3 separate regions of the Homo sapiens genome follow, and all the other regions are linked to region 2. The links come from fine-mapping of genetic effects on gene expression. A gene starts in region 2. Each other region holds a variant in brackets. All regions are shown on one strand. Distances are between the middles of the regions.

The links. PIP is the estimated chance that this variant, and not a neighbour inherited with it, causes the effect.
Region 1: its variant is the best candidate, but not a certain one, in a credible set for the expression of CNIH3 in skeletal muscle (GTEx, PIP 0.55).
Region 3: its variant is the best candidate, but not a certain one, in a credible set for the expression of CNIH3 in whole blood (INTERVAL, PIP 0.67).

Annotation. Positions count from the first base shown.
Region 1 is chr1:224,460,927-224,469,110 of GRCh38, forward strand. It overlaps a transcript of CNIH3 not described here. Among named protein-coding and RNA genes, the nearest start is that of WDR26, 30 kb to the left of the region's middle. The variant C/T (reference allele first, on the strand shown) is at 3,154.
Region 2 is chr1:224,612,570-224,620,753 of GRCh38, forward strand. CNIH3 (cornichon family AMPA receptor auxiliary protein 3) reads left to right here and starts at 3,748. Exons shown (of 6, transcript NM_152495.2): 1 at 3,748-4,686. The coding sequence starts at 4,606. CNIH3-AS2 (CNIH3 antisense RNA 2) reads right to left here and starts at 3,658. Exons shown (of 4, transcript NR_183287.1): 1 at 3,629-3,658; 2 at 3,043-3,167; 3 at 2,635-2,858.
Region 3 is chr1:224,470,538-224,478,721 of GRCh38, forward strand. It overlaps a transcript of CNIH3 not described here. Among named protein-coding and RNA genes, the nearest start is that of WDR26, 40 kb to the left of the region's middle. RefSeq lists a silencer at 3,453-3,622. The variant CA/C (reference allele first, on the strand shown) is at 3,827.

The DNA.
Region 1 (8,184 bases), 150 kb before region 2:
GAGCCACTGCATCCAGCCAGTTGTTTTTATTATGACTTTACCCTTAATTCATTGTATATTTTATTTAAATTTAATTTTTTCTTTTTTTTTTTTTGAGATGGAGTCTCACTCTGTCACCCAGCCTGGAGTGCAGTGGGGCGAGCTCAGCTCACTGCAACCTCCACCTCCTGGGTTCAAGAAATTCTTGTGCGTTGGCTTCCCGAGTAGCTGGGACTACAGGCGCCCACCACCACACCCAGCTAATTTTTATATTTTTAGTAGAGACGGGGTTTTTCCATGTTGGCCAAGCTGGTTTCGAACACGTGACCTCAAGTGACCCACCCACCTTTGCCTCCCAAAGTGCTTGGATTACAGGCATGAGCCACTGTGCCTGGCCTCCATTGTATATTTTAAACAAAGGATGTTTAATACAGACTTATTTTTGATGCATTATACATTTTAAACAACATGAGTTTATAGCCAGTATGGCTTTTACTCCCCTTTCTTTAAGGGGAGATAAGCATACCAGTATTCTATAGAATAGTATCAGCACACAAGGCACACTTGCTTCCCTTTGCTTACCTCTGATTTAAGATCATAACTAAAAGGAATTTATTGAACCTATGGACGTATGTATTTACTTCTGAGTATATATCTCTTCCTCACATGCATATACCTTACATAAATGATTTCTTCAGTTACCATAGTGATTTAAACAGTTTTAAAACATCTTTATTAAGATTTTAACATACTACAAAATTCACCCATTTAAAATGGACACAATTCATTGGTTTTTAGTAGATTAACAAAGTTGTGCAACAACCAGCACCACAATCTAAGTTTAGAATATTTCACCCCAAAAGAAAACCCATATCAATTAGCAGTCATTTCCCATTCTCTCCTCCATATGCCTCAGTTGTAGGCCACTAATCATGTACTTTCTTTTTCTATATATTTACTTATTCTGGACATATATAAATGGAGTCATACAGTATATAGTTTTTTGTGACTGGCTTCTTTCACTTAGCACAGTGTTTTCAATGTTCATCCACGTTGTAGCATTTATCAGTACTTCTTTCCTTTTTTTTAAAAAAAAGACTTTTACTTTTTAGAGCTGTTGTAGGTTCACAGCAAAATTGAGCTGAAAGTACAGGGTGTTCTCATATACACCCTGCCCTGCTCCATGTAAACCCTCCCCCATTATCACCATCCGCACCGTTGGTGTATTTGTTACCATCAATGAACCTACATTGACATCACTATCACTCAGTCCATAGTTTACAGTAGGGTTGGTTCACTCTTACCCTAATGTAGGGTTCATGTGGTGTCGTACATTCTATGGGTTTGGACAAACCTTTAATGATGACATGTATCCACCATCGTAGTGTTGTACAGAGTAGTTTCACTGCCCTAAAAATCCTGTTATGTTTAAATTTTTTTTGTTTTTTGAAACAGTCTTGCCCTGTCACCCAGGTTGGAGTGCAGTGGCCCCATCTTGGGTCACCGCAACTTCTGCCTCCCATGCTCAAGCGACTCTCCTGTCTCAGCCTCCTGAGTAGCTGGGATTACAGGCACCCACCACCACGCCTGGCTAATTTTTGTATTTTTAGTAGAGATGGGGTTTTGCCATGTTGGCCAGGCTGGTCTCGAAATCCTGGCCTCAAGCAATCCGCCCGCCTTGGCCTCCCAAAATGCTGGGATTACAGGTGTGAACCACTAGGTCTGGACCCAATTTTTTTTTTTTTTTTTTTTTGAGATAGGGTCTCATTCTGTCACCTGGCTGAAGGGTGGTGGTGTGATCACGGCTCACCAGAGCCTCGACCTCCCAGGCTCAGGTGATCCTCCCACCTCAGCCTCCTGAGTAGCTGGGTCTGCAGGCACGCACCACCACACCTGGCTAATTTTTTGTATTTTTATTGTAGACATGGGCTGGTCTCAAAACACCTAGGCTCAAGTGATATTCCTGCCTTGGTTTCCCAAAATATGTTTAACTTTTTTTTTTTTTTTTTTTTTTTTGAGACAGTCTTGCTCTGTCACCAGGCTGGAGTGCAGTGGCACAATCTTGGCTCACTGCAACCTGCACCTCCTGGGTTCAAGCAATTCTGCCTCAGCCTCCCGAGTAGCTGGGACTACAGGCGTGTGCCACCACACCCAGCTAATTTTTGTATTTTTAGTAGAGATGGGGTTTCATCATGTTGGCCAGGATGGTCTCGATCTCTTGACCTCGTGATCCACCCGCCTCGGCCTCCCAAAGTGTTGGGATTACAGGCGTGAGGCACTGTGCCTGGCCTGTTTAACTTTTTAAGAAGCTACCAAAATGTTTTACAAAGTGCTTGTACTGTTTTCCATTCCCAATGATGTGTGAGAGTCCGGTTTCTTCATATCCTTGCTGACTCTTGGGATGGTCAGTCTTTTGTTAAAATGTTTTGTTAAAAATCCTTTGGCCATTTAAAAAATTGTGTTGTTTTCTCGTTATTAATTTTTGGAGTTATTAGCATGAATACAAGTCTTTTTTTTTTTGAGGCGGAGCTTCACTCTTGTTGCCTAGGCTGGAGTGCAATCGCACGGTCTCTGCTCACAGCAACCTCTGCCTCCCAGGTTCAAGCGATGCTTTTGCCTCAGCCTCCCGAGTAGCTGGGGTTAGGCATGTGCCACCATGCCCGGCTAATTTTGTATTTTTTAATAGAAACGAGGTTTCTCCATGTTGGTTAGGCTGGTCTCGAACTCCCAACCTCAGATGATCCGCCTGCCTCAGCCTCCCAAAGTGCTGGGATTATTGGTGTGAGCCACCGTGCCCGGCCTGATACAAGTCTTTTATCAGATATGTGCTTTGTGATGATTTTTCTCCCAGCTTATGAATTGTCCTCATTTTTTTTTTTTTTTTTTTTTTTTTTTTTTTTTTTTAGAGGGAGTCTCGCTCTGTCGCCCAGGCTGGAGTGCAGTGGCATGATCTCAGTTTACTGCAACCTCTGCCTCCTGGGTTCAAGCCATTCTCCTGCCTCAGCCTCCCGAGTAGCTGGGACTACAGGCACATGCCACCACACCTGGCTAATTTTTGTGTTTTTAGTAGAGACGGGGTTTCACCATATTGGCCAGGCTTGTCTCGAACTCCCGATCTTGTGATCCGCCCACCTCAGCCTCCCAAAGTGCTGGGATTACAGGTGTGAGCCACCG[C/T]GCTCGACCTGGATTGTCTTCATTCTTTTCGGAGTATCTTTTGAAGAGCTTAACCTTTAAATTTTGATGGAGTTCACTTTATATTTATTTTTTATGGGTTATGCTCTTGGTGTCATGTCTAAGCAATCTTTGCCCCAAGGCCACAAAATTTTTCTCCAGTGTTTTCTTCTAGAAGTTTTATAGTTTTAGGTTATTCATTTAGGTCAATGCTCTATTTTGAATTGATTTTTTTTTTGAGATGGGGTCTCTATATGTTGCCCAGGCTGTTCTTAAATTCCTAGGCTCAAGGGATCCTCCTGCCTCAGCCTCCCAGGTAGCTGGGACTACAGGCATGTGCTACTGCACCCAGCTAGTTAGTTTAATTTTTGAATAGGTAATACTTTTCCGTGCCTGGCTTTAAGCTAATTTTTATGTATGGTGTGAGTTATGGATCAAAGTTCATTTCTTTCTTTTTTGCATGTGGATATCCAATTGTTCCAGAACTATTTCTTGAAAAAACTATCCTTTCTCCATTGGATTGCCTTGGCACCTTTGTAAAAAATTAGTTCTCCATTTATGTATGGATCTATTTCTGATTTCCATATTCTGTTCCATTTATCTATTTTCCTTATTTATACCAAACCACACTGTTTTGATTCCTGTAGCTTTTAAATAAATCTTGAAGTCAGGTAGCATAAGTCTTCCAGCTGTATTCTTCTTTTTTTTAAAGATTTTATTTCATTTTATTTTATTTAAAGACAGGGTCTTGCTCTATTGCCCAGGCTGAAGTGCAGTGGTGTGATCACAGCTCACTGCAGTCATTAATTCTTGGGCTCAAGTGATATTCTCACCTCAGCCTCCCGTGTAGCTGGGCCCACAGGTGTGTACCACTAGGCCCAGTTAATTTTTTGATTTTTTGTAGAAACAGTCTCACCATGTTGCCCAGGCTGGTCTGAAACTTCTGGACTTGAGCGACCCTCCCACTTTAGCCACCTAAAGTGCTGAGATTAGAGATGTAAGCTGAGGCACCCAGCCAAGATAGTTAGAATTATCTTTTTTTTTTTTTTTGAGACGGAGTTTCGCTCTTGTTGCCCAGGCTGGAGTGCAATGGCACAATCTTGGCTCACCGCAACCTCCACCTCCTGGATTCAAGCGATTCTCCTGCCTCAGCCTCCCAGGTAGCTGGGATTACAGGCATGCACCACCACACCTGACTGATTTTGTATTTTTAGTAGAGACGGGGTTTCTCCGTGTTGGTCAGGCTGGTCTCGAACTCCCGACCTCAGGTCATCTGCCCACCTTGGCCTCCCAAAGTGCTAGGATTACCGGTGTGACCCACCATGCCTGGCTGGTTAGAATTATCTTTAACTCATCACAGTCTACCTTCAAGTTATATTGTATCACTTCACACATAACATAAGTTTACAGGAGTCTACCTTTGTTTCCCTCCTCATAGCTTTTATGCTGTTGTTGTCATACGTTTTACTTACACATTTGTTATAAACCACAGTCTATACTATTATTTTTGCTTGAACAGCCAGTTTTCTTTTTTAGATGTTTTATTTTGAAATAATTATAAACGGGATATTGCAAATAAATGTATAGAAAGGTCCTGTGCATCCTTCACCCCTCCTCCCTCAATGTTGACATTTTGCATAACTACATACCGTATCAAAACCAGGAAATTGGGCGGGTGCTGTGGCTCACGCCTGTAACCACAGCACTTTGGGAGGCTGAGGCAGGCAGATCACCTGATGTCAGGAGTTTGAGACCAGCCTGGCCAACATAGTGAAACCCCATCTCCACTAAAAATACAAAAATGAGCCGGGCATGGTGTCGGGCACCTGTAATCTCAGCTACTCGGGAGGCTGAGGCAGGAGAATCGCTTGAGCCTGGGAGGCGGAGGTTGCAGTGAGCTGAGATCTCGCCATTGCACTCCAGCCTGGGTGATGAGAATGAAACTCCTTCTCAAAAAAACACAAAAAACGAAAAACAAAAACCCAGAAATTGGCATTAGTACAATCCACAGGGTTTAGTCAGATTTTACCAGTTACACATGCACTCATTTGTGTGTGTATGTAGTTCTATGCAGTTTTATCATACATGTAGCTTTGTGTAATTGCCACCACAATCAAGATACAGACCCATTTCATCACCATAAGCCTCCCTGATGCTTTTATAGTCACATCTACCTTCTTTCTCCCCAGTCCATAACCCCAGCAGCCATTCTTCTGTTCTCCATCTTTTAATATTGTTATTCAAATACATTACGTAAATGGAATCACTTATGTAGTGTCATACAGTCTGTAGCTTTTTAAAAAAATCAATCAGCATAATTCCCTTGAGAACCAGCCAAGGCCTAATTCTATCGTAGTTTTTTCCTTTATGTTGCAGAGTAGTATCTGTGGTATGGATGTACTACAGTTTCTTCAACCATTTATACATTGAAGGACATTTGGGTGGTATCTAGTTCTTGGCTATTATAAATAGAGTTGTTATCAACATTCATGTATAGATTGCAGAGCGCATATAGGTTTTCATTTGCCTGGGATAAATGCCCAAGGGTGCAATTGCTGGGTTGTATGGTAAGTGCACTTTTAGTTTTAAAAGAAAATGCCAAAATATTTTCCAGAGTAGCTATCCCATTCTACATTCCTGCCAGCCATGTAAGAGTGATCCAGTTTTTCCCATATCCTTGCCAGAATTTGACATTTTTTATTTTATCACTCTGTTAGGCATGTAGTGATAATGCATTGTGGTTTTAATTTAGATTGCCCTAATCACTGAGGTTGAACATCTTTTTATTAGCTTGTTACCTGTATCTACTCCTCAGTGAAATGTTTTTAGTACACTTGCTAATTATATTGTTTGCTTTTCTACTGTTGAGTTTTGGAAATTCTTTATATTCTAGATACTAAATCCTTTGTTGGATATTTGGCTTGCAAATATTTTCTCCCAGTCTGTAATTTATCTTTTCATTCTCTTGAGACAGGGTTTCACTCTGTTACCCATGCTGGAGTGCAGTGGTGTGATCATGGCTCATTGCAGCCTTGACCTCCTGGGCTCAAGTGATCATCCCACCCCAGCCTCTCACGTGGCTGGGACTACAGGTGTGTGCCACCATACCCAGCTAATTTTTTCTGTTTTTTGTAGAGACATTTCTTGAACTGCTGGAAATGTTGCTGAGGCTGATCTTGAACTGCTAGACTCAAGCCATCTGCCCACCTCTGCCTCCCAAAGTGCTGTGAATACAGGCGTGAGCCACTATGCCTGGCTCTTTTCATTCTCTTAACAGGAGCTTTCACAGAGCAAAATTTTCTAATTCTTAAGAGGTCCAATTTATCAAGTTTTCCTGGATCATAGTTTTTGTTTGTTTGTTTGTTTGTTTTTGTTTTGCTCTCATTGCCTAGGCTGGAGTGCAATAGTGCGATCTCAGCTCACTGCAACCTCTGCCTCCTGGGTTCAAGCAATTCTCCTGCCTCAGCCTCCTGAGTTGCTGGGATTACAGGCAGGTGCCACCAAGCCCGGCTAATTTTTGTATTTTTAGTAGAGACGGGGTTTCACCATATTGGCCAGGCTGGTCTCGAACTCCTGACCTCAGGTGATCCACTCACTTCGACCTCCCATATTGCTGGGATTACAGGCATGAGCCACTGCGCCTGGCTGGGATCATAGTTTTGATATCAAGTTGAAGTACTGTTCTCCCAGCCGTAGGTTTTGAAGATTTCCTCCTGTTTTTTTTTTTTCCAAAAGTTTCATAGTTTTACATGGTATGTTTAAATCAATGATTCATTTTAAGTTAATTTTTGTAAAAGGTATGAGGCTCTTCTTTTTTTTTCTTGGCCTACAGACTTTTTTTTTTTCTTCACCAATTGTTGAAAGGGCCGTCCTTCCTCTATTAAATCATGTTTGTACCTTTTTTCTTTAAAAAAATCAGTTGTACATTCTTTTGTGATTCTATTGTTTCCTCTATTATATTTCATTGATCTACATATTTATTCTTCCACCAGTACTCTACTGTCTTGATTACTGAAGTTATTTAGTAAGCCTTAACATTGGGTAGAATGATTCTTCTTACAACATTCTTCTTTTTCAAAATTGTCGTAACTATTTTAGGTCCTTTACCTTTCCATATAAATTTTAGAATAAGTTATTTATATCTATAAGAAGCCTTGCTGGAATTTGGATAGGAATTATGTAAATCAATTTGGGAAAAATTGATGTTTTTAGTGTTGAGTTTTCTAAGTCATAAACACAGTATTTCTATTTATTTAGGTCTTCTGTGATTTCTTTCATCAACATTTTGTAATTTTCAGCATACAGCTCTTATACATGTTTTGTTAGATTTATAACTAAGTATTTCATTTGCTTTGTAGCAATTGTAAATGGTATTGTGTTTTCAGCTTTGGTTTCTACATGTTTGTTGATTTTTGTGTGTTGATTCTGTGTCCAGTGACCTTCCTTATTAATTTTTAAAATTGCAGTTAAAAATAGATTTATTAGGATTTTCTGTGTAGATAATTGTCATCTACAAATAGGGACAATTTTATTTCTTTCTTTCCAATCTGTCTGCATTTATTGTTTTTCTTTCTTTATTGCATAGGCTAGAACTTTCAGTACTGTGTTGAATAAGAATGATGAGAGTACGTCTGTGGTAGGAGAAGGTGGGAGCATCACTTGAGGCCAGGAGTTAAAGGCTGCAGTGAACTATGATCATGCCACTGCCACTGCACTCCAGCCTGCGTGACAGAGTGAGACCCTGTCTCAAAAAAAAAAAAAAAAAAAGAAAGAATGGTGATGCCATGTTCCTGATATTAGGGGGAAAGCATTCAGTCTTTCAGTCTTTCACCACTAATTATGCTGTTACCTGTAGTTTTTTGGTAGATGCTCTCTATCAAGTTGAGTCAGTTCCTCTCTAATCCTAGTTTGTGAAACTTTTTTTTTTTTGTGCACGTGAATGGGAACTGGATTTTGTAAAATGCTTTTTCTATATCAATATGGTCATATGACTTTTCTTCTTTTTTATTTTATTTTATTTTTTAGACAGGGTCT
Region 2 (8,184 bases):
TTGGTCATCCTGGAAAATCTCAAATGCTGAATTTGGATTAAGGTAATCCTGGAGCACTAGGTTCCCCTAGATACCTGGCAAAAGAAGTTGAAAATCCTCCCTGGAGAAAGATAACATAATTTTAGGCCTCAAATGACTGTAAGAAAACTTTTCAAAACAAGTTTGGCACAGTAAAAATCTACTAGATGGATAAGAAGCGAGGACTCCGTAAACAAGAACCAGCAGAAACAAAAGATCAGAGAGGTCCCAAAGGGACTCAGAATTTTGGTGTCACGAAATTTTATACAGTACAATTACTACAATGAAAAGAAATGATCTATATAAAATAAAAAGCAAAAAAACAGCTAGAAAGAAATACACCAGGATTGTGTTGGTGGTATCTGAGAGCAGCAAACTGTGGTGTTTATCTTTTTCATTTTTATATTTTCCAAATTATTTTATATTTTTGAGACAGGCTCTCGCTTTGTCACCCGAGGTGGGGTGCAGTGGCATGATCACAGCTCACTGTGCCTTGACCTCTTGGGCTCAAGCAATCCTCTGGCCTCAGCCTCCTGAGTAGCTGAGACTACAGGTGTGCACCACCATGCCTGGCTAATTTTATTTTCATTTTTGTAGAGACCGGGTCTTAATTATGTTGCCCAAGATGATCGCGAACTCCTGACCTCAAGTGATCCACCCGCCTCAGCCTCCCAAAGTGCTGAGATTACAGGCATGAGCCACAGTGCCTGACCTCCAAATTTTCTTTAATGACAATTTATACTGGAAGAAATACTTCTGTAAAAGAGAAAGCAACATAGGGTATAACCCAGAGCAGGGCTAGATTTGTAGGCATTCAACTTCTACAGCTGTCCAGGGTCTTGTGCTCAGAAGGGCCTCATGCTTGGCTTAATGTTCTGCTGTTGCTGTCTTGAAATTATTAATTTTTAATCAAGAAGCTTGATATAGTTTGGGTTATTTGTCCCTGCCCAAATCTCATGTTGAAATGTCATCCCCAGTGTTGGAGGTGGGGCCTGGTGGGAGGTGTCTGGGTCATGGGGGTGGATCCCTCATGGCTTGGTGCTGTCCTCGCAATAAAGAGAGTGTTCTCACAAGATCTGGTTATTTACACGTGTGTGGCACTTCTCCACAACACTCTCTTGCTCTTGCTTTTGCCATGTGACATGCCTGCTCCTGCTTCACCTTCTACCATGAATAAAAGCAACCCTGAGGCCTCCCCCGAAGCCGAGCAAATGCTGGTGCCGTGCTTGTACAGCCTGCAGAACGGTGAGCCAATTGAACCTGTTTTCTTTATAAAGTACCCAGCCTCAGGTTTTTGTTTTTTTTTTTTGAGACAGGGTCTGGCTCTATTGCCTAGGCTGGAGTGCAGTGGTATGAACACAGCTCACTGCACCCTTGACCTCCTGGGCTCAAGCAACACTCTCACCTTAGCCCTGCAAGAAGCTGGGACTACAGGTGCATGCCACCACACCCGGCTAATTTTTGTATTTTTTGTAGAGATGGGGTTTCTGCCATGTTGTCCAGGCTGGTCTCAAATACCTAAGCTCAGGTGATCTGCCCACCTCGACCTCCCCAAGTACTGGGATTACAGGCATAAACCACCATGCCTGGCCAGGTATTTCTTTATAGCAATGCAAGAACGGCCTAATACAAAGTCCCACATTTTCATTTTGCACTTGGCCCTCCAAAGTATGTAGCCGGTCCTGACCCAGAGGCAATAAAATGTAGATCGGTTCATTGCTCTGGTCATCAGCCTCTGGATTTGCTCTAATTTCTCCACTTCTCACTGAAAGGCATCTAGTTTCTAAACTGGAGGGAGATATGAGGCCAGGCACTGTGGTGCACACCTATAATCCCAGCGCTTTGGGAGGCCAAGGCTGGAAGACTGCTTGAGGCCAGGAGTTTGGGACCAGCCTGGCCATATATTGAGACCTATGTCTGCAAACAAAACAAAACAAAAATTATCTGGGTGTGGTGGTGCATGCCTGTAGTCCTAGCAAGGAGTTTGAGGCTACAGTGAGCTATGATAGCACCACTGCACTCCAGCCTGGGCAACACAGCAAGACTGTCTTCAAAAAAATAAAATAAAATAAATTGAAGGGCCTGGAGCGGTGGCTCACGCCTGTAATCCCAGCACTTTGGGAGGCCGAGGTGGGTAGATCACGAGGTCAAGAGATCGAGACCATCTTGGCCAACATGGTGAAACCCCGTCTTTACTAAAAATACAAAGATTAGCTGGGCGTGGTGGTGCGTGCCTGTAGTCCCAGCTACTCGGGAGGCTAAGGCAGGAGAATCGCTTGAACCAGGGAGGTGGAGGTTGCAGAGATCACGCCACTGCACTCCAGCCTGGCGACAAAGTGAGACTCCGTCAAATAAATAAATAAATAAATAAATAAATAAATAAATAAATAAGTAAAAGATGTGGCCAAATAGCTGCAGGAATGTTGGGGCATAGTAGAAAGAGCCCAGGATTAGGAGTCCGCAGACAGGATTCCAGTTCTGTCACTAGAAAGCTGTATCTCTATCTTGCTGGAATTCATCCCTTCCAGCTCTCAAGGCATTGGAATCACATCTGTGAACAGGAAAACTAGCACACCAGAGTCAGAATCAAGCAATAGTTATTTATCTAGTTCCCACCCTGTGCAAGGTACCAGGTGCTCTAAGATTCACTCCAATCCATGAAGTGCGTCTACTCTTTCACCGAGATTTGCCAGTCGTCTTTCAGGGTATTTTTCCTTGCTTTCTGGATTTGATGACTTGTCTGAAACTGAAGTTCTCTCTGGAATGACTGGACCTCTTTCACTGCAGCGTCAGGAATCTCTTGCAAAGCAAGCATGGTGAACTTCCAAGATGCTGGGCCACTGGGGGAAAGGGTGCAATTAATAATCCCTACCACTTATTGAACGTATACCAAGTGCTAGGTTTTTTACTTATGTTCCCTTTTAATCCTTTGAAATGGCTTGACTCTACTCTTATTTATGTTTTTCTGATAAGGAAACTAAGGATTAAAGAGGTTAGGTAACTTGCAGCTAGAAAACGGTCTACCTTCAAAAGCATCCTCTTGACAATTCCACTAGGACCAACACCAATACCACCGAGCCCTCGTTGCTGCCTCTTCAGCGCAGAATAGCCCACCAAGTCCACGTTTCCCTAGTCCCAAGGTCGGATGGCTGGGGAGGGTAGAGGATGCAACGGAAGGACGTTAATGGAGAATTTTGCAGGGTCTGGGAGCAGAGCAGTAAACGCAGCCCTAAGCACTGAGTATGCTACAGTTTGGTAAAATCCATCCAAGCAGCTTTGGGATCCAAGGCTTGCACTGTATCCCCAACCAACACTAGGCAACGCCCCAAGTCCCCACACTTCCCACTCCGATAGGCGAAACTGCAAGAACCGGGAGGGGCGGCTGCGGCGTTTAGGCGCGAGGCACACACCATACCCTTCCGCAGCTTCCCACCTCCTCCAGACGCACGTGTTTAAAGAGTCCCTGCTCCAACCGGTCCCGCCCCACCTCCGCTCGGCCTCCAGCCCTGCTTGTACTGCTGGCTTCAAGTTTCCTCCGAGAGGCGGGCGTGCACAGCTGCAGTGGCGGCGGCAGCGGCCACCAAGCGCCCGGCGGCGCTTCGCCACCCACCTTTCCTCAGCCCCCGGCGCTGCAGTCTCCGCCCGCCGGGGAGGGCGCGCTCAGCGGAACAGGAGTCGAGGGTGGGGCGCCGAGAGGAGGGAATCCCGGGTCGCACCGCTACAGTTCTCGCAGTGGCAAAGGCGGCGGCGGCGGCGGCGGCAGCGGCAGCAGCAGGTGGAGCGAGCTACAGCGTTTGGCCTGAAACCCACTGCTGCAGCCACCCGGGCTGGAGTTGGCCCGTTGGGTGGAGCCAGTGCTCGCCCCGGTCCGACCCCCGGTTTCCGGGACACTTGGGTTGCGGAGGCCGGCTGGCCGGAGTCACGGTTGGGGACGGGCGCGCCTCGGAGCGCACGGCTGCGCTGGAAGCCGCGTCTGGGGCGCAGGACCAACGGGACCTACCTCCTCCCGGCTACCTAAAGACTCCTTCTCTCGGGAAAGAGCGCTGCCCGGCTCTGGGATTTGGGAGGAGCTCGGAGGCCGCTCGGGCACCTCGCTGGACACTATCCGTTTGCGCCCCGGTGGCGCGGGAGGGTCCGGAGCGGAGCGCTCGTCTCTCCTCAGCGGTTTAGTGGAGAAAAGCAGAGAGCTCTTCCTGGGGCGAATGGGACCTCCTCCCTCGGTCCTCCGTGGAGTCGTCGCATCGCTTGTCGTGTTGGTCTCGAGGGGCTCACAGCTTGGCACTAATTTGCAGGTGTTCGCTGCTGATTTGGTTTCTTCTTCGATTTGCGGACGGTTCCCTCCAGCGACTCTCGACACACGTTTTCCTGTCTTCGCCGGAGGGCCGGGTCTGGGGTCGCCGGAGCCTGCGGGAATCCAGCGCTTATTCGCTGACCCTCGAGTCGCTTCGCTAGCTGTGCGCCCTCCTGGGCACTAGCCTGGAGAGGAGCGTGCAGACGCGGCTCCTTGGAGGGAGTGCGGTCCTCTAGGGAGGCATCGGGCTCCTAGGGGCTTCTTGGCGTGTGTGGTGGGATTGGGGTCCGCCGGCCATGGCCTTCACTTTCGCTGCGTTCTGCTACATGCTGTCTCTGGTGCTGTGCGCTGCGCTCATCTTCTTCGCCATCTGGCACGTGAGTAACACGCTTTGGTCTCTCTTCTTTCGCCCCAATTTCGCTAAATTTCCCCGATTTCACCCCACTTTTTCCACCTTGCGGGCGTGGGCGAACCGGAAGGTTGGACCTTCTGCCGCTCCACTGTCCCGGGGCAGGAGGCAGTTCGCTGCATCCCGCCGGGCGCGCCTTCGGTGCCCTGGCTGGAGGCGAGGGGCCGCTGGTGCCCAGGTAGGACACCCTCTGCAGGGCCCGACTGGGCGTCCCGGGTCCCGGGCGCCGGGGAGTGGCGGCTACAACCACAACTAACCCCTTCCTCTCCCGCCCCGTCCTCTCCTGCCGGCGGGAGGCGAAGGAGAAGCGCCGCCGTCGGTCCCGGCAATTAGTCAAGTAGCTATAATAACTAAACATTTAAAATGTCAGCATCTGTGGTGGGTTGCATTTAGATATAATTGGAGACAAAGTGGAAACACGACGGGAGCGCCTTGTAAGAGGTAGGGAGAAGCCGAGCCCACGGAGAGGAAGGAGACCAGGCGATGGGGGTCGAAGTGGAAGGCGGTGGGGGAAAGGCGAGAAGGAGAAGAGCAAGGAGGCGAGGGAGACTGGGAAGGGCAGGCATCATTAAGGCCATGGAGGAAAGTCACGAAGAGAGACCGTGGAGAGCGACGACGGTGTCCTCCATCTGCCCTCTTGGCGTCTGAAGTCCGACTCCTGAAGACCCCCTGCAGGTGGCGAACCTCCGCTAGGCCCCCAGCGTCCCCAGCCCACACAAGCTTCCTGTCACCCTTCCCGGGGCTACGCCAGGTGGAGGGCAGCCGTGGATCCCAGTTCTTTAGGTGTGGGTGGGAATAGAGGAGCGCAAGCTTCTGAATAGGGGAAGAGAAGTACTGAGAGAGCGCGCAGGAGTGCGTACGCCGGTCCTCTCAAAGACTGTGCAACATTTAGCGAGTGCATGCAACTCTCAAGGCTTCCTTCTCTGAGGTTGTTTAAGCCCCCTATCCTCACCCTCAGAGGGCTGGTGGGAAGAATGGCCAAGGCCAAATGTTTAGAAGGAGCACCCCAGTGCATAATTTCCCACCTTTAACAGCCTTGCCCTGCCCAGCGTCTAGGTGACAGAGAAGGACCCTGAGACGAATTCTTGGAGGCATGGTTCTGGTGAGCATCACAGACTCTCATACAGTGGGGATGACCCAAAATGAAGACGTGGAGAAAATTGCAGGGTGGGTGAGATGCCCTTGTTTTCTATAAGTGGTTTGCAGAGTGAGAGTTTGTCTTAAAATAGAACTAAGCAGCTAGAGCAGCTCCTGCTACAGGGCTCTGACAGAGAGGAGAGGGGAAACTCGGGGAGGAAGGTGGCTTCCGATCATGTAACCTTAGGAAAGACCCTTGCTGGCTTCCTTCCACATCTCTAAAGTGAGAAAATTGACCTGGATAGTCGCTAAGCTTTCCCCCATTTCTCAGATTGTGTAAATCCGTGCATCAGTAGACTTAGGAATCTGGGGGTGACAGGGAATCCAAACATAGATATTTGGGGGATGATTAAAACAATTCCGCTATTTAGAAGTAATGGGATTTTAAACCCTCCCTTCTCTGCTCTGCAAGGCTGGGTCTAATCTATAGTAGAAAATTGAGGCTTGAAGTTGTTGACAGTTCTTAAGGGAAAAGGAAACTTACCTGATTTAGAATAGAAAGGAATACAGATTAGATCATGCCCAAGCAGTGCAGCAAACCTCTGCTAATGTGCTTTAAAGGAACTTTCTCAGCTTCTTTGGATATGGGGAGTTACTTGGATTCTAGAAGGCCAACTACTCCCTTTTCTTCTGCAATACTTCATTTGCTGTTTTCTGTTTTTGCCTTGGCCAGAGGGTGTCAGGTACCAGAGAGCTCCCTCAAACTCGAGTCTGGCTTGGAGTTCTCTGAATTGGTCCCTGAAGCAGAGCAAGTAACCAGAAAGAATCATTTTCTCTCATTCAGGGAAAGATGATTAATAATTCAAGAACAGCTTCATTGAGTGGTTTGTGCAGCTGGTTGACATTTGAATGAAAATCAGGTGTTCCCTCATCCAGCACTGGCTCTATCCTCCAGCTTCTCAATGCTCACCCCCTTATCGAGGGGTGGCTGAAATGCAGTCAAATTCCAACTCAGGTTTTATCCAGATTCCTCGTGGAAGTGGCAAGATTCTTGTTTCTAATAATGAAAAGAATTTGTGCGTTTTGATTTCAAATTACGGTAATAATTTCATAGTCTCAGTCCCTCCTTTCCTAGTCTTTTCCTTCTCTATCCCTTTCCCTCTCTCCAAATCAAACAACCCAAACCCCATCACACTGATTTGGTTCCTGAACATTGAACTGGGAAACCAGAGACACCCTGATTTCAGGGCACGGTTTGTATGTCTGGGTGTTAGTTACATGGTAGTAATTATTTCAACCAAAATTGAGGAGACTTGGTTTTATGTTAGACTGTTTGCCTTCTTTCCAGCTTCTTATATTACTTATGTACTTCTTGATCGGACAAGGCATATTGATTGTGTGATATATATCAGTACCCCAAAAAATGAATTGGGCGCTTAACAACATATAGCGGTTAAAATGCCTGCCATGCTGCCATGCCTAGGCTGTAAGATATGAAGATGGCGTGCTTTTCTTATTGAATTGTACGTACCTACTTAGGGGTAATGATGGTAGCTACTATGTATTGGGTGTCTGCTGTAGGACAAGTTTTAAGTACTTTACAGAGGATCTCTCAGTCCAATCGTTTTCCTCCCCTTTTTTCCCACTGGATGTCTGGGAGCAAGGATGGATGTGGCCAGCCTTTCTTTCAAGTCTTGTTTTTTACTTTGAAAATTTATCTGCATTTGTTTTCAGTTGAAAATATTTCAAGTTACCCATTTATTTTATATCAGCTACTATCTCTGAGTACATTTATCACATTTGGAAGAAGCAGAAGAAAACTAGGTTTTTTCTGTGGCTTTGCATACCCTCAGGCACCTGGCCTCTTACTGCCCAGGCAGCCCTTTAGTCCTCATAACGGACATTTCGCAGATGAGGAAACTGGATCAGAGAGATTACAAGGTTGCCTAAGGTTGCACAGCTGATATGTATTGGAGCTGGTATGCATGGACTTGAGCTAGGTCTGTGAGACTCTTAAGCCTAAGCCCTTTCTCTAACTGTAGTCACTATTTTTGGATTCATAACTTAGATAATAATTTATATCCAAAGGATTACCTTTCTCTGTATAAATGAAATTTTAGAGTTGGAATTTCTGATTGGGGTTACAATAGCAACAGCAACCAGACTCAAGACATGCTATATATCCTTTTTTAAAAGAGGAAAATTCTATTTATTTAAATTAGACTTCTGCTTATAAAATGATACAGGTTCCTTGTCCAAAATTTTGAAAATACAATGATTTGTAATTAAATAAAATCATCAGTAATCTTATCCAGAAAAGATTATCTCTTGTGTATTTTAAAAAATTGCATATGGCCGGGCTCAGTGGCTCATGCTCGTAATCCCAGCA
Region 3 (8,184 bases), 140 kb before region 2:
TTCAGCTCCTGGCCTCAAGTGACCCTTCTGCCTCGGCCTTTCAAAGTGTTGGGATTACAGGTGTGAGCCACCACACCCAGCCCTCTTTCAGTTGTTATTGTTTTTTGTTTATTTGTAAAAATGGGATCTGCCTATGTTTTGAACTCTTGGGCTCAAGTGATCCTCCCACTTCGGTCTCCCAAAGCGCTGGGTTTACAGGCACAAGCCACCATGCCTGGCCATCTCTTTCAGTTCTTTAAAGATGTTGTTCCATTGTCTTCTTGCTTGCATTGTTTCTTTTTTGGGGGTACATAGTAGGTATGTATATTTATGGTGTACACGAGCTATTTTGATACAGACATACAATATGTAATAATCACATCAGGATAAATGAGATATCCATAACCTCAAGAATTTATCGTTTGTGTTACAAACAATCTAGTTGTACTCTTTTAATTATTTAAAAGTGTACAATTAAATTATTTTTTACTATAGTCACCTCGTTGTGCTAGCAAATACTAGGTTTTTTGTTTGTTTGTTTGTTTGTTTTAGATGAGGTCTTGTTCTGTTGCCCAGGCTGGAGTGCAGTGGCACAATCTCAGCTCACTGCAAGCTGGGTTCAAGTGATTCTCCTGCCTCAGCCTCCCGGGTAGCTGGGACTATAGGCATACGCCACCACATCCAGCTCATGTTTTATATTTTTAGTAGAGACAGGGTCAGGAGTTCGAGACCAGAACTCCTGACCTCATGTGATCTGCCCGCCTTGGCCTCCCAAGGTGCTGGGATTCCAGGCGTGAACCACAGTGCCTGGCAGAAATACTAGCTCTTATTCATTCATTCTATTTTTTTGTACCCATTAACCATCCCCTCTTCCTCCCCACTCCCCCACTACCCTTCCCAGCTTCTGGTAACCATCATTGTACGCTCTATCTCCATGAGTTCAGTTGTTTTAATCTTTAGCTCCTACAAATAAGTAAGAATACGCAAAGTTTGTCTTTCAGTGCCTAGCTTATTTCCTTAACATAACTACCTCCAGTTCTGTTCATGTTGTTGCAAATGACAGAATCTCATTCTCTCTTTTTTTTTTTTTTTGAGATGGAGTCTCGCTCTGTCACCCAGGCTGGAGTGCAGTGGCGTGATCTCGGCTCACCGCAACCTACGCCTCCTGGGTTCAAGCAGTTCTCTGCTGCAGCCTCCTAAGTAGCTGGGACTACGGGTACCTGCCACCATGCCTGGCTAATTTTTTTGTATTTTTAGTAGAGACGGGCTTTCACCATCTTGGCCAGGCTGGTCTTGAACTCCTGACCTCATGATCCACCGGCCTCGGCCTCCCAAAGTGCTGGGATTACAGGTGTGAGCCACCGTGCCCGGCCTCTCATTCTTTTTTTTATAGCTGAATAGTACTCCATTGTGTATATGTACCACATTTTCTTTATCCATTCATTTGTTCATAGACACTTAGGTTGCTTCCAAATCTTGGCTATTGTCAATAGTGCTGCAGTAAACATGGAAGTGCAGATATCTCTTCGATATACTGATTTCCTTTTTTTGGGAGGGTGGGTATTTCCCTAGCAATGGGATGTCTGGATCATATGATAGCTCTATTTTTGTTTTTTTGAGGAACCTCCAAATTGTTCTTCATAGTGGTTGTACTAATTTACATTCCCACCAGCAGTGTATAAGGATTCCCTTTTCTCTACATCCTCACCAGCATTTGTTATTGCCTGTCTTTTGCATAAAAACCATTTAAAATGAAGTGATATCACATTTTCTATATGATAATAGAAGTCATTATATAAAAAAGATACTTGCACATGCATGTTTATAGCAGCACAATTCACAATTTCAAAAATATGGAACCTGCCCAAATGTCCATTAATCTATAAGTGGATAAAGAAAACATGGTATATATGTATACATCATGGAATACTACTCAGCCATAAAAAGGAGAGAAATAATGACATTCGCAGCAACCTGGATGGAATTGGAAATTATTATTCTAAGTGAAGTAACTCAGGAATGGAAAACCAAACATTATATATTCTTACTAATATGTGGGAGCTAAGCTATCAGGACGCAAAGGCATAAGAATGATACATTGGACTTTGGGGACCTGGGGAAAAGGATTGAGGATGGTGAGGGATAAAAGACTACACGCTGGGCACAGTGTACACTGCTAGGGTGATGAGTGCACCACAATCTCAGAAATCACCACTAAAGAACTTATTCATGTAACCAGACACCACCTGTTCCCCAAAAATCCTATTGAAATAAAAAAATTAAAAATCAAAAACCACAAAATTCAGAATTACAGGAGCTTTCCTCTCCCACAACCACCTAAGATTCTGGACAACTATATTTATAATGGGTATCTCAGATGATTCTCATGAATAAGTCATCCTGATAGATTTTAGGGCCAATTTTTCATAAGAATTCAAGGAAACTGTCTTTGCTGGGCTATGTGAAATTACCCAGAGCTGCTTATCTCTCATTGGCAGGAGGGTTTGGCATCAGTTGCAGGTGACTTATTTCCTTTTACTGTGGATGATAGAGATAATTGAAGAAAAAGCCTTAGTTTGTATTTAAAAAAATAAATAAAATAATGGGTTTGGAAGATATTATTTGCAAGCCTCATGGTAACCTCAAATTTAAAAACGTACAATGGATACACAAAAATTAAAAAGCAAAAAATTAAAACATACCACAAGAAAATCATCACCTTCACTAAAAGGAAGACAGGAAGGAAGGAAATAAGAGAAGACCATAAAACAACCAGGAAACAACAAAATGACAGGAATAAGTCCTTACTTATCAATAAAATAAGTAATTGGTAATCGACTACACTCAACAATCAAAAGGCATAGAGTGGCTGAATGGATTAAAAACAAAACAAAACAAAACAAGACCCAGTGATCTGATGCCTAAAAGAAATACACTTCACCACTTCTATGCAAATGGGAACCTAAAAAGAGCAAGAGTAGCTATACTTATATCACACAAAATAGGTTTCAATACAAAAACTATAAAAAGCGACAAAAAGGTCATTATATAATGATAAAGAGGTCAGTTCAGCAAGAGGATATAACAATTATCAATATATATGCATCCAACATGAGAGCACACAGGTATGTAAAGGAAATATTACTAGAGCTAAAGAGAGAGAGAGAGAGACAACAATAGCTGGAAACTTCAACACCCCACTTCCAGCATTGGGCACATCTCCTAGACAGAAAATCAACAAAGAAACATTGGATTTAATCTGCACTATAGACCAAATGGACCTAATAGATATTTACAGAACGTTTCATCCAATGGCTGCAGAACACACATTCTTTTCCTTAGCACATGGATCATTCACAAGGAAAGACCCTATGTTAGGGTACAAAACAAGTCTTAAAACATTCAAAAAATGGAAATAATATCAAATATCTTCTCTGACCACAATAAAATAAAACTAAAAACCAATAACAGGAGGAATTCTGGAAATTATACAAACACAAGGAAATTACACAGTATGTTCCTGAATGACCAGTGGGTCAATGAAGAGATAAAAAAACGAAAGTTTTGGCCAGGCACAGTGGCTCATGCCTGTAATCCCAGAACTTTGGGAGGCCAAGGTGGGCAGATCATGTGAGGTCAGGAGTTCAAGACCAGCCTGACCAACGTGGAGAAACCCCGTCTCTACTAAAAATACAAAATTAGCTGGGCATGGTGGTGCATGCCTGTAGTCCCAGCTACTTGGGAGGCTGAGGCAGAAGAATCACTTGCACCCAGGAGGCAGAGGTTGCGGTGAGCCGAGATTGTGCCATTGCATTACAGCCTGGGCAGCAAGAGCAAAACTTCGCCT[CA/C]AAAAAAAAAAAAAAAAGTTTTTCAAGAAAAAGTTTTCTTGAAACAAATGATAGTGGAAACACAACATACCAAAAACTATGACATACATCAAAAAAGGGAAGTTTATGGGTATCAGTGCCTACATCAAAAAAGAAGAAAAACTTCAAATAAACGATATAATGATGTATCTTGAAGAATTAGAAAAGCAAGAGCAAACCAAACCCAAAATAAGTAGAAGAAAAGAAATAATAAAGATCAGAGCAGAAATAAGTGAGATTGAAATGAAGAAAACAATACAAAAGATCAATGAAACAAAAAGTTGGTTTTCTGAAAAGATAAAATTGACAAACCTTTATCCAGACTAAGAAAAAAAGAAAGAAGGCCCAAATAAGGGAAATCGGAGCCCGGGCCGGTGGCTCACGCCTGTAATCCCAGCACTTTGGGAGGCCAAGGCGGGCAGATCACAAGGTCAGGAGATCGAGACCATCCTGACTAACACGGTGAAACCCCGTCTCTACTAAAAAATACAAAAAAATAAAAATAAAAAAAAGCCGGTCGTGGCAGTGGGCGGGCGCCTGTAGTCCCAGCTACTTGGGAGGCTGAGGCAGGAGAATGGCGTGAACCCGGGAGGCGGGGCTTGCAGTGAGTCGAGATCGTGCCACTGCACTCCAGCCTGAGCGACAGAAGGAGACTCCATCTCAAAAAAAAAAGAAAAAAAAAAAAGAAAATCAGAGGCTGGGCGCGGTGGCTCAGCCTGTAATCCCAGCACTTTGGAAGGTAGAGGCGGGCGGATCACGGTCAGGAGATCAACACAATCCTGGCTAACATGGTGAAACCCCGTCTTTACTAAAACTACAGAAAATTAGCTGGTCGTGGCTGCATGCGCCTGTAGTCCCAGCTACTCGGGAGGCTGAGGCAGGAGAAGGGCATGAACCCAGGAGGCGGAGCTTGCAGTGAACCGAGATTGCGCCACTGCAGTCCAGCCGGGGCGACAGAGCGAGACTCCATCTCAAAAAAAAAAAGAAAAGAAAAGAAAAGAAAATCAGAGATGACAAGGGAGACATTACAACGGATACTGCCAAATTCAAAGGATGATTAGTGGCTATGAGCAATTATATGCTAATAAATTGGAAAGTCTAGAAGAAACAGATAAATTCCTAGATACATACAACCTACCAAGACTGAACCATGAAGAAATCCAAAACCTGAACAGGCAAATAACAAGTGATGAGATTGAAGCCATAATAAAAATTTCGTCAGCAAAGAAAAGCCTGGAACCTGATGGCTTCACTGCTGAATTTTACCAAATATTTTAAAACTGATAATACCAACCCTGCTCAAATGATTCCAAAAAATAGAGGAAGAGGGAATACTTGTAAACCTAATACTTGTAAACTATGCACTATGAGGCCAGTATTACCAGTAAACTAGACAAAGCCTCACCAATAAAAGAAAACTACAGGCCAATATTCCTCATGAACATTGATGCAAAAATCCTCAACAAAATAGTAGAAAACCAAATTCAACAACACATTAAAAAAAGCATTCATCATTACCAAGTGGGGTTTATCCCAGGGATGCAAGGATGTTTCAACATATGCAAATCAGTCAGTGTGATACATCATATCAACAGAATGAAGGACAAAAACTATATGATCATTTAAGTTGATGCTGAAAAAGCATTCGAAAAAATTCAACATCCCTTCATGATAAAAATCCTCCAAAAAAGTGGGTATTAAAGGAACATACCTCAATACAATAAAAGCCATCTAGGACAGACCCACAGCTAATATCATACTTAAAGTAGAAAACTGAAAGCATTTCCTCAAATATCTGGAACAAGACAAGGATGCCCACTTTCACCACTGTTATTCAAGTCCTAACTGGAGCAAACAGACAAGAGAAAGAAATAAAGGACATCAGAATTGAAGGAGGAAGTCAAATTAGCCTTGTTTGCAGATAATACATCTAATATTCAGAAAAACCTAAAGACTCCACTAAGAAAACTATCAGAACTGGTAAACAAATTTAGTAAAGTTTCAGGATACAAAATCATCATACAAAAATCAGTAGCATTTCTATATGCCAACAGTGAACAATCTGAAAAAGAAATCAAGAAAGTAATACCATTTACAATAGCTACAAATAAATTTAACCCATTACCCATTTGCCCTGAGAAATGAGCACTGGCAGCGAGCTGCACTTTTTTTGTCTGAATAGGAAATGGGTTAAATACTTAGGATTTAACCAAATAAGTGAAAGATTTCTACAATGAAAACTATAAAACACTGATGCAAGAAACTGAAGAAGACACCAAAAACTGGTAAGATAGTCCATGTTCATGGACTGGAAGAATCAATATTATTAAAATATCCATACCACCCAAAGCAATCTACAGAGTCAATGCAATCTCTATCAAAATACCAATGATATTCTTCACAGAAATAGAAAAAAAAATCCTAAAATTTATATGAAACCACAAAAGACCTGGAATAGCCAAAGCTATCCTAAGCAAAAAGAACATTCTGTGTCTTTTAGGTGGAGTGTTTAGGACATTTACATTCAATGTTAGTTTTGAGATGCGAGGTACAGGTTGCTAGGGAACTGGGGGAAAGCCGGCAGTTACAGGCCTCACCCTGCTCCCAAGCAGCCCACAGTCCTAAAGCTGATCTTACTCCCACCATGCCCCTGCAACAGCACCAAGTTTATTTCTAAGCAGCTGGTGACCAGGGCTGAGAACTTGCCCCATTGAGAAAGCAAGCAGCCTCCCCATGAGCCTCCCCATTGAGAAAGCAAGCGGACTCACAGTTTTTTGGCATCTCAGGGAGCCTGCAGGGGTGATGAAGTTCCTTCAAAGGGTGTGTGGATTCTTTCGGCTTTCTTGGTATGTTCCTATGGTAGTTCTTGGAGCAAAAGTTCACGATGTGAGTCTCCACATGCTGTTCTGTCCATCTGAGTGGGACGCGCAAGCTAGTCTTTCCTCGTATCCACCATCTTAATCTCCTAAGTCGAATTCTGAATTTCAAACAAATTCTTTAGGAGATTCTTCTGCCTGCTTATATTGGAGAACCCCAAATCCAGTCCTATAGTTTAGATGGAGTAACTGAAATGCCCACAAACCCATTATTTTAAACTGATGACAATGCTGCCTGCATAAACAAACAAGCAAAAAACAAATGAACAAAACCCCCAAAATTAATAAAAACTCTACACTTTAACTTTGTCTTCCTGCATTTTAACTTATTGTTGTTTATATTTTATTATACTGTCTATGTCATGAAAGTTGTTTTAGTTATTTTTGTTGATCAGTTCATCTTTTCGTCTTTCTACTTAAGATATGAGTAGTTTACATACCACAATTACAGTGTTAATGACATTCTGTGTTTTTCTGTGTGCTTACTGTTACCAGAGAGTTTTGTACCTTCAGATAATTTCTTATTGCTTATTAATGTCTTTTCCTTTCAGGCTGCAGAACTCCCTTTAGCATTTCTTGTAGGAAGGGTCTGGTATTGATGAAATCCCTTAGTTTTTGTTTGTCTGGGAAAGTCTTTATTTCTCCTTTATGTTTGAAGGATTTTTTTTTCCAGATATACTATTTTAGAGTAAAAGTTTTTCCCTTTAGCACTTTAAATATGTCATACCACTCTCTCCTGGCCTGTAATGTTTCCACTGAAAAGTCTGCTGCCAGACATATTGCCATTGTATGTTATTTGTTTCTATTCTCTGGCTGCTTTTAGAATCCTTTCTTTTTCCTTGACCTTTGGGAGTTTGATTATTAAATGCCTTGATGTAGTCTTCTTTGGGTTAAATATGCTTGGTTTTCTACAACCTTTTTGTACTTGAATATTGTTATCTTTCTCTAGGTTTTGGAAGTTCTCTGTTATTATCATCTTGAATAAACTTTCTACCCCCATCTCTTTTTCTACCTTCTCTTTAAGGCCAATAACTCTTAGATTTGCCCTTTTGAGGTTATTTTCTAGATCTTGTAGGCATGCTTCATTCTTTTTTATTTTGTCTCCTCCGTGTATTTTCAAATAGCTTCTTCTCAAGCTTACGGATTCTTTTTTCTGCTTGATCAGTTCTGCTATTAAGAGATTCTGATGCATTCTTCAGTAGATCATTGCATTTTTTAACTCCATAATTTCTGCTTATTTTTAATTATTTCAATTTTTGTTAAATTTATGGGATAGGATTCTGAATACATTTTCTGTATTATCTTGAATTTCTTTGAGTTTTCTCTAAACAGATATTTTGAATTCCGTCTGAAAGGTCACATATCTCTGTCTCTCTGGGATTGGTTCCTGGTACCTTATTTAGTTCGTTTGCTGAGGTCCTGGATAGTCTTGATGTTTGTGGATGTTCATCAGTGTATTACTC